Regions from separate parts of the Homo sapiens genome. Here region 1 is linked to region 2. The links come from fine-mapping of genetic effects on gene expression. Tissue or cell type: whole blood. Region 2 holds a variant in brackets; the other region holds the start of a gene. All regions are shown on one strand. Distances are from middle to middle.

Region 1 (5,000 bases), 120 kb after region 2:
TGGGCGTTCGGAAGAAAAGAAAGACGTATGACTCTTGAAATTTACATAGGGAGAAAGGAGATTGCCTACTGGAAGTCCAGGTGATTGGGTGTAGGGGAAAAGCTGTGTGTGGCTTCGCAGCCCAACTGGGAGGAGGGGACAGGGGCGGGAAGTGGCAGGAAATGGCGAAAGCCTCAGGAATGTTTCCAGCAGGGAAGGCTGGGCAAACGGGGCCAGGAGGAATGCCCAGACAAGAACTCTGGTTAGGGGGAGGGGAAGAGACAGAGAAGTAGCGACTGAACTGTCCCTTAAAAAAAAAAAAATCAAACAACAAAAAGAGCACTATTATCTACCCCCACTCCAAACTACCGTTCTTCTGGTAGTAGAAAACTTTTGCTCATGTCACACCCACATGCCACACACCAACAAATCCATGGTCTTATCCACTTATGTCTAGGAAGGCCTAGAGCTACTTCTGGGATGAGGTTGGTCCTGGGAAGGGAAAGCCAGGAAGTGAGGCTGGGAGTCTGAGGGCAAGTCTCTCTCTCCCTCTCGTGCCAAACCCCACGTTCAGCCCTTTCAAATAGTTCTACCCTTGGAGGAGGTTAAGAAAGAGGAAAACGGGGACGGGCGCAGTGGCTAACGCCTGTAATCCTAACACTTAAGGAGGCTGATAAGGGTGGAGCACCTGAGGTCAGGAGTTCGAGGCTAGCCTAGCCAACATGGGGAAACCCCGTCTCTACTAAAAATACAAAAATTAGCCGGGCGTGGTGGTGGGCGCCTGTAATCCCAGCTACTCAGGAGGCTGAGGCAGGAGAATCACTTGAACTCAGGAGGCGGAGGTTGCAGTGAGCCGAGATCGCACCATTGCACTCCAGCCTGGACGATAAGAGCGAAACTCCGTCTTAAAAAAAAAAAAAAAAAAAAAAAAGATAGAAAGGAAAACGGAAAACGGCTGCCTTTAATCTCACTCCTTACAGCCAGAGATGGGAACTTTGACTTCCCACCTGGGGGAGCACGAGAGTGCTCGGAAAACTGATCCCAAGGCCCAAAAAGAGAAAGGACAGGAAAATATAAGCAGGTGGAGTTTCAGGGATTGACGACAAGGCTTTTCAGCTGATGACCCAGGTCCCACAAAGATAAAGCTCCTAAGGGGGCGTGGTCCCCTAAGGACGCGAACTTCAGACTTCTGGGCGGGGAGGCTTTCTGGACAGTCAGACGTGGATTACGGAGGGGGCGTGGCTTCGGAGGGGCGGAGCTTCAACAAATTCGAATCGTTCTTTGAAGAGCAGGGTTTTGCCCTTTTGGGAGATAGGCCTTTTGACAGGAGTTAGCCGAGGATCGTTGCTAGGAGGCGGAGTTTCGGAGAATGGAAGGAGTAACGAAGGGTTTCTCGTAGTAGGGCTTGGAACGTGTCGGGGGGTGGGGACTTCCAGAAAAACTGGGCGACAGGGTGGGGTCGGAGACAAAAAATAAAAATCAAGTCGGGGTTCGGGGGAGCCCCCTGAAGTTGGGAGGTGGGACTTCCGGGGAGAGGGGTCTCAGGGGCGGGACTTATAAATGAAGACCGGAAGTGGGGTCCCGGGAGAGGGGTTCCGGGGTGAAAGAGTGAGTCACCTAAGGAGAAAAAAGTCAAGACTCACCAGGGCCTCATGGAGTCTCCGCACCGCACCGCGGGCCGATTTGGTGCCGGATCACGCCACTGCCAGCTTAGGTTACCGCTCCAACTTTCTCCCCGGGCCCTGCCTCCCTGGAGAAACTTTATTACACTCACTTCCGGCCTCACTAACCCCTGACCCTCTACCTCAGGGTCCCTCCTTCACGCTTCCCACTTTCCCGAGTTAGCCAATGGCAGCGCGAGATCGCGCACAAAGGCAGTGGTGGCCAATAAGACGCCTACTTTTGACCCACGCTCGTTCTTGAGAAGCGTGAGAACTGCCCTCCAATAAGGATCCGAAGAGAAGTAAATCTAAGCCAATCGGAGGCTTGAAAGTAGAGGTGTCCCGCCTCGAGCCAAACGGACCAATAGGAAGTGCGGGCGGCGTGTTTGAAAGCGAGGCCAAAGTGGGTGGGAGCGCGTGCTGTTGGGAGTTGCTTGGAGGTTGGCGGCGCGGGGCTGAAGGCTAGCAAACCGAGCGATCATGTCGCACAAACAAATTTACTATTCGGACAAATACGACGACGAGGAGTTTGAGTATCGGTTAGTGCTGGCGCGGGAGCAATAGCGAGGGTCGTGAGCTTTGGCCGCTGAGGGCACAAGGAATTAGTAACAGGAACTGAGGCGATAGAATTGGCGCATGCGTACGAGGTGCGAACGGGCAATGGTGTGATATTGTGGAAGGCGTAAGGCGCATGCGCGGAGGTGGGAGGCGCTCGTAAAACAAAGTGGTTGCGAATTTGGAGTCGCCTCTCAGTAGAGAGGAGAGAGGGGTGGGCGTGGTTAGGGTACTGACCACCCTCACCCATGAGGCTTTCTGGATCATTCTCTGAACTTTATCGGGCAAACTTAACTTGCCTTGTAGAGACTGTTTCACAGTAATCTTGTCGAATCCAGTGGGAGAACGTAGCAAAAGCGGAGCTGGAAGTTTCCTGGCGTCCCTAACAGGAGAGTAGCGCTGAGAGAGTTGAATATTGCTTATTAACTCGTGAAAAAGACAAGGGGCGTGGTTGTCTGGCTTGTGTAAGGAAGGGGATCGCTTGGGACTGCAATGGAATAAAACTGGCTAGGAGCATTGAGAAAATACTTAATATGGGTCTAATAGATGCCCTTTAAATATCAAAGGGAACAGTTACGGAATACTTAACAGGTTTCAGGTGTTCTGCTAAAGTGCAAGGATAACACATGGTCTCTGCTGTTCACAAATTTAAAAATCTGTGGGTGGTACCGACAGACACCAGAAAGGTGACACACGCTATGCAAGGAGCCATTACAGGGTGTGATGGGAGCACACAAGACTTGCTAAGGAGAGGGAACTGGCGACCCGAAGGCTGCGGCTTCCTAGCTGTGAGCGGGGGTTGAGGTGGGGCTAGAAAGTCAGTCCCCTACTTTTGCTAACTCCAGGACGCTCCCCCATCCCACGCTTCGAGAACGCCCCCCGCCCCGCCACCGCCTTGGAGGCTGACCTCTTACTTTCGGTCGGTCTTCTTCCCTGGGCTTGGTTTGGGGGCGGGGGAGTGTCCTAAGGGCCAATTCAGCGTGATGTCTCTTTCACCACCATTGAAAACGAAACCAGTAGTAAACTACGCGTGTTTTCATTTATATGTCGGAGATAAAAACACAGGGACAGAAAGAGGGGAACAACAGACATTGGGGCCTGCTTGAGGGAGGAGGGTGGGAGGAGGTAGAGGTTCAGGAAAAAAAAAAACTGTCGGGTACTATGCTTAGTACCTGGGTGATGAAATAACCTGTACACCGAACCCCCGAGTCAGGATTTTACCTATATAACAAACCTGCACATGTACCCTTGAACATGAAACTTAAAATACTGAGAGGAAAAACGGAAGAGGGAATGTTGGGGAAAGCTTCCTAGAGGGCAGAGCCTGAGATGAGACTCTAAGAAAAAGGTATGTGGGAGGAAGCACCTCTTGACTGAAATTGTTTAGAAGACACTGGATAGCCATCTGCCAAGGATGGTGATGATGGAATCCTGGCACTGGATGTGGCATTCGGGCTTGATAAATTTTAAGTGCATAATCTAGATTGGGAATAAGGGAAGACACAGGATTCCACAAATGTTGGCATTATGCTAATCTGTATTAATTGTAATAATTAAGACCACTTCCTGGTTTGTATCTTGTCTCCTCAGTTGGAGAACATAAAATGAAAACTTGCTTTTCTTGTGTCTCTTCACCCAGCCTAGTTCAGGGCTTTGGGTCTTCCAGAGAACTCGATGTGCATTGACAAATACATAATCATCTTTATGCCAAGACGGCTCCAGACCCTCCTTTAATTAACTTTCTTTTCCTCAGCTGTTTTCCTCTACATCTGAACTAAACTAACTTAAAACTGTATGTGCTTATAAGAGATTTGTGGAGCTGGGAAGGAATCACCATTTCATCCCCTGGAAGATGAAACTCTTGGCAGTGGCACTTTGGTTTAAGAGGGGTTTTTTGGTGTATGTATTGAAGCCAAATTTCGTGCCAGGGTGGTGTTAGAATGTGAGCTATTTTCATTATATTTGGACTAGAATTTTTTCTTTTAGGAGAATGGTGGGGAATCACTGTTACTAGCACAGAGGGAGAACTTAGTACATTTTCATTGAGCATGACGAAGACTATGTGGATTAGTTTGATTCACATCAGGGTAATAATTTTTTTGCTATGAAGGGAGACTTATCCTTGGTTAGAAAAGCACGGAATTTACCCAGAAAGTCTCAAGGTACATCCCTCCAGAGTTAGGAAAATAAGATTCAGGATAGATTTAATTTTTTTTTTAAGAGACAAGGTCTTGCTTTGTTGCCCAGACTGGAGTGCAGTGGCTATTCACAGGCACAACCATTGTGCATTGCAGCCCTTTCTTTTTTCTTATTTTTTTTCTCTTTTTTTGAGACGGAATCTCACTCTATCGCCCAGATCTCAGCTCACTGCAACCTCCGCCTCCTGGATTCAAGGGATTCTCTCCTGCCTCAACCTCCCAAATAGCTGGGATTACAGGTGCATGCCACCACACCCGGCTAATTTTTGTATTTTTAGTAGAGACGGGGTTTCACGTTGTTGGTCAGGCTGGTCTCCAACTCCTGACCTCAAGTGATCCACCCACCTCAGCCTCCCAAAGTGCTGGGATTACAGGCATGAGCCACCGCCCCTGGCCTATTTCTTCTGTATTTTAATCAGATTTCAAACTTCATACTGTATCTTTTTCAAACTCCTGGGTTCAAATGACCCTCCTGCCTCAGCCTCCCAAGTAGCTGGGACTGTAGGTTTGTGCCACCATGCCTGGCTTAGATTTTAAAGGACAAGATAGTTCATTTCATCCTTTGTAATAACTTGTCCACACAGTACTTCATAAAAGGCCTTTCCTC
Region 2 (5,000 bases):
GCAGCAGGGAGGGAGGCTGGCCAGAAGGGCCTGTCTCTCAGCTGTCTCCTGAGAGTGAGAAAATCCCCTTAGCCACGATGTCTTCACAGGCTTTCGCTTGTGGGATAGGAAGATAACGCCCCCCGCAGCCCACCCTGCCAACATGCACCATCGATGAGGACCCCCGCCAGCTGGAATAGCGTAGCTTTCTTCCAGTTCTCTCCGAAATTCCATCTGGTGCTCACGACCTTCCCGCAGATGGCCAGTGCAGGAAACATCCCCTCCTCAGGCTCCTTCTCTCACTCTCTAGATGACAAAACAGAGGACCAGAAACTAAGCTGCCCCACACCTAGCCTAGGATGCTTCTCCTCACCTGCAACTCAGCTGGCCTTCACAGAGCGCTCCATGTGTGCCAGAAACCATGTCCTCTGCCTTACAAACAGCAATATCTCATTAACTCTCATGACAGCCCCAGCGGCCAGGTTAGGATTCACCCCCATGGAAACTGTGAATCAAAGCACTGAGACAGCTTCCCAAAGCCACACAGCCTACAGTAAGTGACACAGCCAGCGCTGTACCCAATATCTGCTTGGCACTAAAGCCTGTTCTCCTAACACCAGGCTAGATAGCCCATATAGAAGAATCAGAGGATGGCCTGGGAGACAGATATGAGGGAGGATGGAAGAAGTGAGGGTGAGATGGACCTTCAGGAAATGGGGGGAAGGGGAGCAGACGGAGGCGTGGGACACCAAGTCTCAGGCTTGTGGGTCAAACCCAAGCCACATGTGTGTGCCCTTGTCTCTCGCAAAGCTCACATCAGACCTGTTGTTACTTGTTCAGTGCCTGCCTCCCCCACCAGCCTGTGAGCTCCATGTCTATTTGGTGCTGAACCCCCAGAACCAACCAGAACACGCCAGGCAGTGCCCTTGTCTCATTTATTCCTCATGACACCCATTCTCATGAGAGAGAGAAAACACTGTTAACCCCATTCACAGACCTGGAGACTGAGGCTCAAAGAGGTCAGTTTTCTCAACAAGGCTGCACAGCCGAGAAGCCACAGAGCTGCGGCAAGAACACTAGGACGCATGCTGTTGAGGGCTCGGGTGGCCCCTCCAGGGCCCACAGGAGACTTTCCTCAGCCCCAGAGCCCAGCACGGCACCTGGAGCTTCAGCAAACCCCTGTATCTAAACTGCCAGCATCCTCCTCCCCTCCTCCCTCTACCCTTACCCCACTCCATGAGCACAAAACATCCCCTGAGGCTCTGGGGGAGGCTGGCAGGGGACTGAGGGTGGCACAGTAAGGGGTGGGGTGGGCGGGAGTGGAGAGCTCAGGCAGGGCAGGAGAAGCTTTTTGGCTTGAAAGAGCCCAGTCTAGGATCTGATATGCAAAAGCATGTCTGCTGCACAATGTGAGGGCGTCGGAGACACTCCCCTGTGTGCAAATCCAAACTCCACCACCTCCCAGCTGTGAGACCCTGAGCAAGTCACTTAAACTCTCGGAGCCTTGGGTCTGTCATCTGTAAAATGGGGAGAATTATATCTACCTCACAGGGTTGTTGTGAGGACTTAATGAGATGAGGTGTGTAAACACACATAGTAGGCCCTTAATAAATATTCTCTTCTCCACCGCCTGTCACCTCTTCACTCCTGAATAAGACCCGGTGTTGCTTTGGAGTCATTCTTACGGAAGGAAAAATAAGTTCCCATGTAATGAGAGCGGTGCCTTCCCCCAAGCTGCTGTGGACACAGGCTTTCTTTCTATATGATCCCGTCCACCCACCAGGAAACCCTCATGACTCAACTCCATCCTAGACTTGCTCTCAGCTTGCATCAATTTCATTTCACTCTTAAGGGATCTTTCCATCGCTGGCACATAGTGTGCACCCCGTCAGGTGTCTTCTGCCAAAATGCCCTCCCACCAGGCTCAGCACCATTACTCTCCCAGAGCAGGGGAAAGCATCTTGGCAGAGCTTAACACCAGGTCCAGCCCAGAGCAGGAGGGGCTGGGAACCATGGGCCCAGCTGTGAGGGACCTTGCATGATCCCAAGGCCACTGAGCTCTCAGAAGAAACAACCAAGGTAAAACCCACCATTGCCCAGCATGGACAAGAGCCCCCTGGGTGACAGCTCTGGCCCACGTTGAATTCTTCACCTCTCCACCCACAAGAGGAATTAAAATACCACCTCCCAAATAAAGGGGCCGCTGCGCAAGGCCACACAGCCAAATAGCCAGGATTTGAATCCAGGTCTATGGGGAAAGCCTGTGCTCTCTTAGGAAGAGTTGGTGGAGAACAACACATCTGGCTGGGGAGAGACCCCCCTGGAGTCTGTAAGGCACAGATTCTCTGCACTCCTGCCGCCTGGAGCAGGGCTTGCCACACAGTGGGTGTTCAGGATATGTTTCCAGAAGAGGGATGGGAGAAACAAAAAGAGAGGAAGAACTAAAACCAGGAATTCCAGGATTCCAGCTATGCCCCTGCCACTAACAATGCTGAGTAGC[C/A]TCGGACAAGTCATGTAACTTTTTTTTTTTTTTTTTTGAGACAAGGTGTCACTATGTTGCCCAGGCTGGTCTTGAGGTCCTGGACTCAACCGATCCTCCCGCCTCAGCCTCCCAAAGTGCTGGATTACAGGTGTGAGCCACCGCATAACTTCTATGGGCCTTGGGGTCCTATAAGGAGGAGGATGGTCCTTTCCCTGCCTTCCTCACAGGGCTGGGAGGCATATGCAGGGATCTTGCCCACCCAGGCTAGCACACCTGGCTGGCCTACAGAGCTTGGCCATCTAGGGCAGGTATGGTGCCCCCCTGAGGAGGCCTCCCCTGCATCCTCCACCAATGCCATCCAGCTCTGAGCCCTCCAAAGGCGGTGGCTCAACCCTGAGCAACATGCCTACCCCAAGCCCTCACCTTGGGAGAAGGTAACATCACCCATGCAGGCAGCTCCGGCCATTCCCATGTATGGGAGATTTTTGGGGAGCCAACATCTTACCCACTGGAAGCCAGAAAAGAAAGAAAATAGCTAAACTCCAATTCGTTAAAATCAGAAATCTCAAAAGGGGTTTTGCTCTGCAAAAATCGCTGCTAGTGGAAGCTTGCGAGGAGGCAGGCTGATGCCAACTCAGGCAAAGGGGCTAGGAGGAGCCACCACTTGCTGGCAGCCCAGGAGCACCCACAGCCAGGCTGGCCACTTGACCAACCACTAGCAAGTGTCATCCTCCCCAGGTTAGTGGATGTCAGTCTCCCCACATCCATTACAAACGGGGACACTGAGGCTCGGAGAGTTTGAGGCACAGAGCTTAAGGAAAACCAACGGTGGCAGATGGACCAGAATGAGCAAGGGCAGCCTCTCCCTGCCTCCCTGCAGGGCCCCCTCAGCTCAAAGCCACTGACAGGTCAGCAAGGTTCAATGGCTCAAGCCAGGCAACAGGTCATCTGCTTCCTCCTCCCTACCTACTGGGTAACCTGGGCAGGGCACCCACCTTTATAGGTCTCTCCATCTATAACCTGAAGCAAAACACCAAACAACTGTCCTTGCAGATGTCGCGTGGCAGGCCTGGTATCAGCAAGCTCTAAGGAGTAGGTGCCAGCTCAGTCCCTGCAAGGAGTGTCCTTTAAGCTGACTTTCCTGTTAATTTGACACTGAGCAGCACTCCTGTCCTTTAAGAAAAATGCCCAACAAGCTGACTCAAAAATAACAGATGCCAATTTGCATATTATTTCACACATCATTTGCATGCTGTTCATTTAGTATCATCAAGGCTCTGCTCAGAATACAACTCTGGTTACCCTGTGCCCAGGGCTTGTGAAACAGATATGGCTTCCACAAAGGGCAAGCCCTGGGCACGTCCCTCCCCTGCCCAGCTGCTCTTGCTGCCTGCCCCCTGGCACCTGGCTGGGAACGTCACCCACTGCCACAGCCCTGGTGCTCCAAGCAGGGTGAAGGGGCAGAAAGAATCTTTAGAATTCTAGGAAGCACCCTGACTCAAGTCTTGAAGGGGAAATTGTGTTCTCTTGACGACGCATCAGGCAAGCTGTGGCAATGCTTTTCTTCCCTGCTTCTGTCCCAGGTCAGCTTCCTAGTTCGGCTCTCCCTGTGGCCCTACTCTCTCAGCCTTTTTCTGCCTGGTCATCGTGTGTCCCCCTGACCTTCCTCCAGGCCTCTCAGCCTCTGGCCTGGCCCCACGGGTTTATTTTTGTTCTCTCTCCACCTGTCCGATTTGCATGTCCACACCCGGTTAGCTCTGCCCAGACCACAAATTGCTAACTGAGTGTAGAATAACAGGGCCCCATGGGGTAAGAAGGCTCCAGAAGTCCAGCCCAGGCCACCACTGCAGCCCTGCCCTCCGGAGAACAGCCCACTTCCTTTTTACTCACACAGATTCACCCAACAAGGTCTATCCAGAAACATGACTGGGGAGCTTGTCACGGACGGGAAGCCATTTGGCTCATGAGAAAAGGGGCATGTTCCACACGTGCTCTCCAGGCAGGGACACCTGCAGACAGTGGAGGGGTGACATGGGCGCATATGCCCCTCCTGTCTTGATGCTCCAGGTGGCATCTTCTAACCACCACTCTAATAAAGGCAACAGTTGCCAGCTGCTGAGACCCAGTGTGTGGCTGGCTCTGTGGTGGCTGCTGTGCTACAGCCAGTAGTTGTGATTCCCTCTTAACACTGAGGAAATAGGCTTTGGGTTCAGTAAGTTCCCAGAGCGCCCATCACTGGTGTGCCACCCAAGTTTTTTTTTTTTTTTTTTTTTGAGATGGAGTCTCACTCTGTTGCCCAGGCTGGAGTGCAGTGGCGCGATCTCGGCTCACTGCAACCTCCGCCTCCCGGGTTCAAGCGATTCTCCAGCCTCAGCCTCCCAAGGAGCTGGGATAACAGGCGTGAGCCACCAGGTCCGGCTAATTTTCTTATTTTTAGTAGAGATGAGGTTTCGCCATGTTGGCCAGGCTGGTCTCGAGCTCCTGACCTCAGGTGATCCACCCTCCTTGGCCTCTCAAAGTGCTGCGATTACAGGTATGA

What was found. PIP is the estimated chance that this variant, and not a neighbour inherited with it, causes the effect.
Region 1: CKS1B starts here. The variant in region 2 is fine-mapped to the expression of CKS1B in whole blood (TOPMed, PIP above 0.99).

What each region holds. Positions count from the first base shown.
Region 1 is chr1:154,972,626-154,977,625 of GRCh38, forward strand. CKS1B (CDC28 protein kinase regulatory subunit 1B) reads left to right here and starts at 2,056. Exons shown (of 3, transcript NM_001826.3): 1 at 2,056-2,179. The coding sequence starts at 2,121. It overlaps MIR4258 (microRNA 4258), which reads left to right and starts at 3,068; the gene lies at 3,068-3,158. It also overlaps a transcript of SHC1 not described here. RefSeq lists enhancers at 1,552-1,701, 2,152-2,301, 2,402-2,461 and a silencer at 1,792-1,881.
Region 2 is chr1:154,856,239-154,861,238 of GRCh38, forward strand. The region is part of intron 1 of KCNN3 (potassium calcium-activated channel subfamily N member 3); the gene reads right to left. Among named protein-coding and RNA genes, the nearest start is that of KCNN3, 12 kb to the right of the region's middle. RefSeq lists enhancers at 691-850, 2,985-3,485, 3,552-4,165, 3,689-4,168, 3,995-4,289. The variant C/A (reference allele first, on the strand shown) is at 2,480.